Linked DNA regions of Homo sapiens: regions 1 and 2 are each linked to region 3. Evidence: fine-mapped expression QTL. A gene starts in region 3. Each other region holds a variant in brackets. All regions are shown on one strand. Distances are from middle to middle.

Region 1 (2,759 bases), 20 kb after region 3:
AATATTTATTGAATGTCTACTAATAGTCCAGAATCTGGGGACATACGCCCCTCATTGCAGTCAGAGTTGTATTTAAAACCCAGCTTTCGTCTTGTTCCTCCCTGCTTAAGAACTTTTGATGGTTTCCTATTCTAGAAAATAAAATGAGCTGACTTCCAACCTCTGTCTTCCGCCATCCGCTTCCCCGACCCTGTACTCTAGGCCAGGATTGCTGGTCATTCTTCAAGCCCACCATACATGTTTTCATCTCTAGCTAGAGAGCTGCTTCTCCCATCTGCCTGCTTAACTTTTACTCATCCTTCAACGCCCAGCTCAAAAATACCAGATCTGTGATGTTTTTCTGATCCTCTGAGATGCTCCAGCCACACCTCTCTAACACCACATAGGTCCTTGTTTAGGTCTCTGCCTCCCATTTTGGACGGTGAGTTCCTTAAAGAAAAGAACCCTGTCTTTTTCATCCATGAGTCCACAGAACCTAGCCCAGTGCCTGAAGAAGAATTTCTGATAAATGGATGATTGCACACAATCTGTCGAGGCTGGTCTTTGAACAGAAAAGGGTCTCTTTTCTTCTTTCCTCAAGTTACTGGGCTATTGAACTTCATGCCTTGTGGCCAGTGAAGGGGACTCAATGGTTGAGAAAGCATTGTGGTCTCTTTCTCTGAGCAGTCGTGGAGAGACTGGAGCCACTGGAGCCTCACTTTTGCCCTGGAGGGGGACTTTCAGCAGCAGCAGCAGCTGAACCCACATACACCAGAGGACTGTGGTGAAGGAGGCATTTGTGTTGGGCTTGGCAGGTGGGAGGCCTTTGTGTTCCAGAGCACAAGTGGGTAAGTATGTCGGACAGGCTGCAGGCTGCACACACATGCCGAGGGGCTGGGCCCAAAACGCCTTCTGACCTGGGAAGAAAAGGAGGCATTGTGTGCACTGGCAGCACTCCAAGGGAAATATTCCAGTTGTTCTATTTTGAACGGCTCACTCTTTTAAAAAAGAAAAGTCCAGAGGTGAACATCTCTCTCCCACTCCAAAACATCCTACCTACAAATTTCAAATCATTTGCTACCCTCAAAATATGAATTAATCCATTATTTAAATAATTCATTAATTCAGCTGCTACATCTTTATGAGGCAGCACTATGGTCAGCATTGTACTAAGCACTTGGGAAACAGAAGTAAAGAAGACACGGTCCTCATCACTGTAGGCTCTATTCCTGATTGCTTGCTGGGTGTCTAAATCCTTTTGGAACCTGGTCCCGCCCCTTCTCTTGTGCCTGATTTTTCTCTGCTCCTTGGCAATCCTTCCTTGAGGCTTCTGTCTGCTGCTGCCCATTCTCTACCTCTGCACCCCCGGTCCTGTACTGTGCCATGTTGTGGGGTCATCAGGTACCAGCTCACCACCTTTTCTAGACTCAGGTGGGCACAGACAGAACCAGGCTTCAGTCTGGGCC[A/G]TTAAGAGCTTGGGCAGTTGTCTGGGTGTGTCACTCATGCCTGTAATCTGAACACTTTAGGAGGCTGTGGCGGGAGAATCACTTGAGCCAGGACTTTGAGACCAGCCTGGGGAACATAATGAGAGCCTGTCTTTACAAAAAATTTTTTAAAAATTAGCCAGGCATCATGGCATGCACCTGTGGCCCCAGCTACTCTGGAGGCTGAGGCAGGAGGATCACTTGAACTTAGGAGGTCGAGGCTAGATTGAGCTGTGATTTTAACCACTGTAATCCAGCACTCCGGCCTGGGCAACAGAGCAAAACACTGTCTTAAAAAAAAAAATCTTGGGCAGGAACACCTAAATTCATCCCTAGCTCTGCCTTTTACTATCTTTGTGACTATGACCAAGTTACTAAGCCTCTCTGAGCTTAGGCTTCCTATTCTGTTAAACAGAAAAAAAAAAATAATACATAGAGACATAGAGTCTTTGAGAAGAGTAAATAATAATAGTGTAGTACTTGGCACAGTGCCTAATATACCACACAACAACTCTCAATAAATAATAACAAAACAACTGACTTTTATTGGGCACTTACCAGTTTCTTCCTTCCCTCAAAAACAACAGCAACCACAGCTTGTATTTCAGTGTCTTCTACATGCCAAGTACTGTGTAAGGTATAGGCATGTAGCCATCAGAACAGCCTTATACAGTGGAGAGTGTTACTTTGTACCATTTTATAGCTGAGGAAGCTGGCTTCAAGGGCTAGAGTGACTTACCCAAGGTCACACGGTTTCAAGTGCTGGTGCTAGGAATCATGATTAGGGCTGTTGAGCTCCTTCCCATTCCTCCCCAACCAGACAAATACCCTGACCACACACTTTGCTACTTGGTGCTGGGACCAGCAGATCAGCATCTCTTGAGAGCTTGTTGGAAATGCCAACTATGAGGCCCCACTCCAGACCCACCAAATCAGCATCTGCATGTTAACAAGATCTTCAGGTTTATAGGCATACTACAGTTTGAGAAACAATGAACTACAGTTTACCAAAGATTTTTAACAGTAGGTTAGAACAGTACTTCTCAAACTATCGTGTGCATAAAAATTACCTGGAGGGCTGGCTGGTTAGAACACAGATTCCTGTGTTCACTTCAGCAGCAAATATACCAAAATTGGAATGATACAGAGACGATCAGCATGGCCTCTGCACAAGGAATGACACAAAAATTCATGAAGCATTTCATATTTAAAAAAGAAAAAGCCCCACAGATTCCTATCCCTGTGATTCTGATTTTGTATCCATTGCTTATTATTGACAGGGAGGACCATCGTGCT
Region 2 (2,759 bases), 66 kb before region 3:
ATACAGACTTAACCAGATGTCCCTCCATCATCGGCGAGAACCTACAAAAGAAAAATTTCTCAACATCTTATTTTAACTCCTAGTGAGGGGGCTGGTGGATGGCCTACCTCGCAGAATCATAGAATTACAGAATGGCAGGGTTGGAAAGTCTCTCAGTCATCTAGTCAAGGTTTCCCCAACTTCCTTGAAGATAGGAACCTAAAGCTCCTGTTTAAAAGCAAACAAGCAAGCAAGCATAGAAGCAAGCAACTAAAAAACAAACAAAAACCAGGTTATTGGGCTCCAACCCAGATCCATTTCATCAGAATTTCCATGGAGGGTTTAGTAATCTCAATATTTAACCACTACCCCAGGGATTCTTATCTTTGGAGAAGTTTGGAAATGCTGTAATCCAACACCCTCATTTTTCAGATGTCAAATTAAGATGCATGTAGGGGAAGTGATTTGTCAAAGTCACCCAGCTGGAGAATAGTTAATATTCCTGGAAGATACATGCCCTACAGTTACTACCCATTAACCCACCCACATATGGATGGTCACGTATTTCCTTAGCAGGCTGACTATGTAGTTGTCCAATGGATTCACAGACAAAGAAGATAGTCTAAGTATTTATGGGTCTTTCATGGCTAATTCCATAGTAAAGAACTTTTTTAATGCACTGTACTATTGTTTAGCTTTCTAATCTCAGAAAGGTCTTTATCACAGTAAAATGTGTTCTCAGAAGTTGGCTGTATTGGGAAATGTAAGACTTTGAAATGCAAATACGCTTTTCTTGCACAAAGGACTCCTGTAAATCAGAGGGCCTCATTTAAAGAGAAACCAACATTTAAACTAGAAAGCAAGATAAAAGCACAACACAAGGATTATGTTTCCTTTCCCTTGGTCATGGGCCAAAGTTTATTCACCATTGTCTGCTCATTACATTAGATCAGTGTGTCGTGAGGAGCCCTGTTATATAGATATTAATAGATGTGCTGCCAATACAGATTTTCCTTGATCAAAGTTTGGGAAAGGCAGCATTAAGCTGCTCTGTCTTAGAAATTCATAAAACATATTAGCTCACTGCTGTTAGGCCCAGTGGCAGAGTAAGAAATAGAATGCTTAGCCTATGGCACAGAAAGGAATCCTTTCTATGGAAGAATGCTGACTTTTGAGAGCTGGTGGCCCCTGCCCTACTCTAGGGATTGGAAGGGCAGCAAGCTCACAGCTCTGCCTCCTCCA[A/G]CTTGGCCGGTTCCTCCTTACCCGTGGACTGCTTTGACCTCCGCACTTCAGGGACCGCCCCGCATGAAAAATAATGGAGGTATTAAGGAACTTTGTCCTCTCACATGTAACCTTATTTTGTGATCACTACTTTTCTGTGAGCTGTACCAAGATGTTCTCCTACTAAAATCTAGTGCTTCTGTATTTCCCCCAGTTTTCAGGAAAATACATTAGGCCAATGGGTATCATTTTAAATTTTAATTTCTTCTGTAATTTTTTCTTAAATATTTGGACCTGCTATTCCTTGTCCCATATAAGCGTACAGTATAGGCCGGGCGCGGTGGCTCACGCCTGTAATCCCAGCACTTTGGGAGGCCGAGACAGGCGGATCATAAGGTCAGGAGATTGCGACCATCCTGGCTAACACAGTGAAACCCCGTCTCTACTAAAAATACAAAAAATTAGCAGGATGTGGTGGCGGGAGCCTGTAGTCCCAGCTACTCAGGAGGCTGAGGCAGGAGAATGGTGTAAACCCAGGAGGCAGAGCTTGCAGTGAGCCAAGATCGCGCCACTGCACTCCAGCCTGGGCACTAGAGCGAGACTCCATCTCAAAAAAAAAAAAAAAAAAGAGTACAGTATAAAGCAATGCATGATTTTCCACACAACGGTGTTAATGGTTACTTGCAGTTGAATGGATCACAGTAGTTCATTGTCGGGCAAAGAGCCCTATGATCCACTGTTACCTACTCCTGCTAGGGCCCACAGACTGAACACTCTGCTGCCTGCCTTTATCGAGGGCTGACACCAAGAGTAGTCACTGGGATTGTGGTCACACAACCCCTGCACCAACTCTCATGAAGATATTGTTGATCAGGTCACTCAGTATTCCTCCTATGAGAATCCACGCTATCAGTTTAGCTGAGACTTTGGTGTCAGGAACAAGTATATATTTTGAAAAACTGAAAAGTGCCTAGCAAATGTAGATTGCTCCTAGATTTTAACGATGAGTAAATGTGTAGGAGTGGGCCAGGTTTGGGGTGAGGGAAGGGAAGAGCAGGGCTTCTCTTTAAAAGTCAGACACCATATGACATTTTGCCTTGGTCTCTGGGAGGCTTAGTTCTAAATTAATGCTTGATGCAATAACAATTTTATCCCAGGTTCCAGTCTCAATTGTTGGCCCCCATCCCAGAGGCTTTATTTATTTATTTTTTGCATTCTATTGTACAGGCGTTTTCATTGGCAACAGCTGCAGACTGTTGTAAGAGGTAGAGTGGAGTGATGTAATCTGGAGTCAGACACATGGTGGTTCTAGTTGGCTGATCCTTGGGCAAGCTGCTGATCTGCTCTGTGTCTTGTTAAATGGGGACTGTTGAGAGGATTTAAAAAGGCAATGCTTCAGCAGTGCTTTGCAGAGCGCCTGGGACATAGTAAGCATCTGAGAAGTGCTAACTGACCGTAGCAACAATGTATTAGTCTGTTCTTGCATTGCTATAAAGAACTACCTGAGTCTGGGTAATTTATAAAGAAAAGAGGTTTAACTGATGCACGGTTCCCCAGGC
Region 3 (2,759 bases):
TTTAGTACAGATGGTTTCACATGTTGGCCAGGCTTGTCTCAAACTCCTGACCTCAGCTGATCCACCCACCTTGGCCTCCCACAGTGCTGGGATTACTGGCGTGAGCCACCGTGTCCGGCTGATGGCTTCTTTTTCAAAATGGGAGGATCTGGCCACATGAATCCCTTTCCCTAGATGACAAAATAGACTGAGCTGAGTAGCAGCAGCCCCTTCCCTTGGGCAAGAACCTGGAGCTGCTATCAAGCTCACCACAGTCCCCACCACTCCCTACTATGTCCCAACACTGGGACCAAGTCTCTGCTGCCATTTATTATTGCTCTGGGATATTGATTTGCTCCAGTGGAGCTCTAGTGGAAGTGAAATCGTTCAAATAACCATATTTCTATAAAAACGTAAAATGAAAGTCCTAGAAAGTACTCCCCCATCTGGGTCACAATGTCAAAAACGAAACCCCTTTGCCTAAGTGTTAGCCCTTGCCAATGGGCCCATGAAGGATGCCCATTGTGGGGGTCAGAGCTGGCATCCGGAGTCTTACGGGGTCCACGGCCCTCTACTTGCCTATCTCTGTTGTCTTCATCTGTAAAGGAGGAGTAGCAGCAGCTCCTTTTTCCTAGGGTTAGGGTGCACAACGCCCACCAGGCACTTAGTGAACTGTTCATTCAAGGTTAGCGGTTGAAACGCAAACATTTTGAACTGATAAAAAACTCTGGTGGGCCGGGCGCCGTGGCTCATGCATGTAATCCCAGCACTTTGGGAGGCCGAGGTGGGCGGATCACCTGACGTTCGAGACCCGCCTGGCCAACATGGTGAAACCCCGTCTCTACTAAAAATACAAAAGTTAGCTGGGCGTGGTGGTGTGCGCCTGTAGTCCCAGCTACTCGGGAGGCTGAGGCAGGAGAATCGCTTGAACCAGGGAGGCGGAAGTTCCAGTGAGTCGGGATCGCGCCACTGCTCTCCAGCTTGGCCATAGAGCGAGATTCCGTCTCAAACAGCAACAACAACAACAAACCTTTGGTGGGAGGTCGGAGTGTGAAATGAAAGACTTAGGGTTCCTGAGTGGGACTACAGCAAGGATTGGGAAGAAAAAAAGGAGATGGAAAAAGACGATTTAGGAGAGGTAAAAGTTCTGTTACTAGGACCCCAGCCCTCACTGGCCCACATCCGCTGGCGAGGACCTAACTTACTGCACCCAGCTTCCCAGTGGCCAGACCTAGGTTCCAGTCCTGGCTGGGGCAAGTCATTACCTTGTCTGGTGCTGTTTCTGCACCTATCAAATGAGGATGGAAATGTCTAGATGAACCGAGATAAACGCATACGAAAGCACTTTGGGAATCTGAAAAGCGCTATGAACAGGTTAGGAGTTTTTGGTCTCTTTTCAAAAAGTTTTTCTTCTAAGCTCATGTTTATCAAGGGCTTTTGAGTTTATCGAGGCTAAGACCCTCCCCTCGGTTTCGCAATTCTGCCCCTTCCTACACACCAAAGTCCGCGCCGCGTCAGGAGTCTTTTTTTTCTCCCCTAGCGAAGGCGGGGACTCGGGCGCTGTTGGCAGCTGGCGACGCGGGGCGAAGCCGCGGCTGGCGGCGCCTGGCCAGTCCCGCATCCGCCGCGGTGGGTGTGCCCGCAGGGGTGCGCCGGGGCCAGGGCCGAGACCGTCGGCCAGAGGGCGCCTGGAGGGTGTGCGCGCCGCGGACGACCAGGGTGCGCCAGCCCCGGGGTGCGCGCCTGGGACGCGGACAGTGCACCCGGAGGTTGCGTGCGCTCCGAAGCCGGGGTGTGCGCCTAGCTGCCCCGGCCCCGTGCACCGCGGGCCGCCTCGCGCAGGACTTCCGCAGCTCGCCAAGGTAAGGGACTCTGCGACCCCAGTCCCCCGCAGTGCGTCTGCTGGGGTGTTCAACACCCGCCCTGCGCGACCCGAGTGTTGGCCCCGGCGCTCGACCACTCTCCTCTTGCCTCTGCCACCCGCCTCGCCCAGTCCCCAGCGCCGCGTCCCCGGCTCCCTTTAAAGCAGTGGCTGCGGCAGCTTGGGCCGACCTGGCGCCCCCGCCTCCCAGCCTGGGGTCTGCGACAGAAAAGGAGCGGGGCTGCTCGGGCTGCCCAAAGGTGGGCGCCGCTCCCTTTCCAGCCCAGATTGGCTCTCCGCGCCCCAATTCTGGGGGTGGAGAACACTGGTGAGGAGGGGGAGGCCGTGCTGTCCTTGCGACTCAGGTGGTGCAGCCCCCGCCCAGCTTTTCCGAGCTAGGCGCTGCGGTCTGGGATGCAGCCTGCGGGACTGGGCGTTCTTTGCCGCGGGCTCCCACTGCTACCTGGAATCGAGCTCTTAGTCTCTCTCCTGTCGCAAAAGTCTCCCCGTAGTGCCAACCCTGGCACTCCTCGGCCCCTGGCTGAACTTTCCAGGGCTCCCTTTGGGCCGCGACCTTGGGCGGAGGCAATGGGGCAGCTCCGAGTGCTCTAGACGCCGCCGAGGGCGCTTTGCCCAGCCCGCATGCCTCCTGTGGGCTCCTTTCCCTTCTGCCTCTCCGGTAAGGTCAAATCTGTGACTGGGTACTTTGACCCCGCAGACTGGCCAGAAATGGGAGTTGGAAAGTCGAGCCCATGGCCGCTACGCTGGGTCTGAACCTAACTCTTGCCCTGGGCATCCTTCGGGGCTGCCAAACTCAAGTCTTAGTTCCTAAGCGCCCTGGAGTGCAAGCCTTTAGGGCAAAGAGGGAGTATTTTCCAGGAGAGGGAGGAGGACCCCCTGAGGCCTGGGCAAAGTCCTA

Which allele goes with the higher level. Alleles are on the strand shown, and positions count from the first base shown. SD is a standard deviation of normalised expression in the study named.
For the expression in amygdala of the gene that starts at base 1,513 in region 3, allele A in region 1 goes with a higher level than allele G (moderate effect, 0.57 SD a copy in GTEx).
For the expression in subcutaneous fat of the gene that starts at base 1,513 in region 3, A is the high allele of the variant in region 2 and G is the other (small effect, 0.14 SD a copy in GTEx).

The links. PIP is the estimated chance that this variant, and not a neighbour inherited with it, causes the effect.
Region 1: its variant is the best candidate, but not a certain one, in a credible set for the expression of KANK4 in amygdala (GTEx, PIP 0.73).
Region 2: its variant is the best candidate, but not a certain one, in a credible set for the expression of KANK4 in subcutaneous fat (GTEx, PIP 0.65).

What each region holds. Positions count from the first base shown.
Region 1 is chr1:62,298,064-62,300,822 of GRCh38, reverse strand. The region is part of intron 1 of KANK4 (KN motif and ankyrin repeat domains 4); the gene reads left to right. It also overlaps the pseudogene RNU6-371P. Among named protein-coding and RNA genes, the nearest start is that of KANK4, 20 kb to the left of the region's middle. The variant A/G (reference allele first, on the strand shown) is at 1,446.
Region 2 is chr1:62,384,546-62,387,304 of GRCh38, reverse strand. No RefSeq gene overlaps it. Among named protein-coding and RNA genes, the nearest start is that of USP1, 51 kb to the left of the region's middle. RefSeq lists a silencer at 233-527. The variant A/G (reference allele first, on the strand shown) is at 1,222.
Region 3 is chr1:62,318,188-62,320,946 of GRCh38, reverse strand. KANK4 (KN motif and ankyrin repeat domains 4) reads left to right here and starts at 1,513. Exons shown (of 10, transcript NM_181712.5): 1 at 1,513-1,841. RefSeq lists enhancers at 1,473-2,195, 2,196-2,759.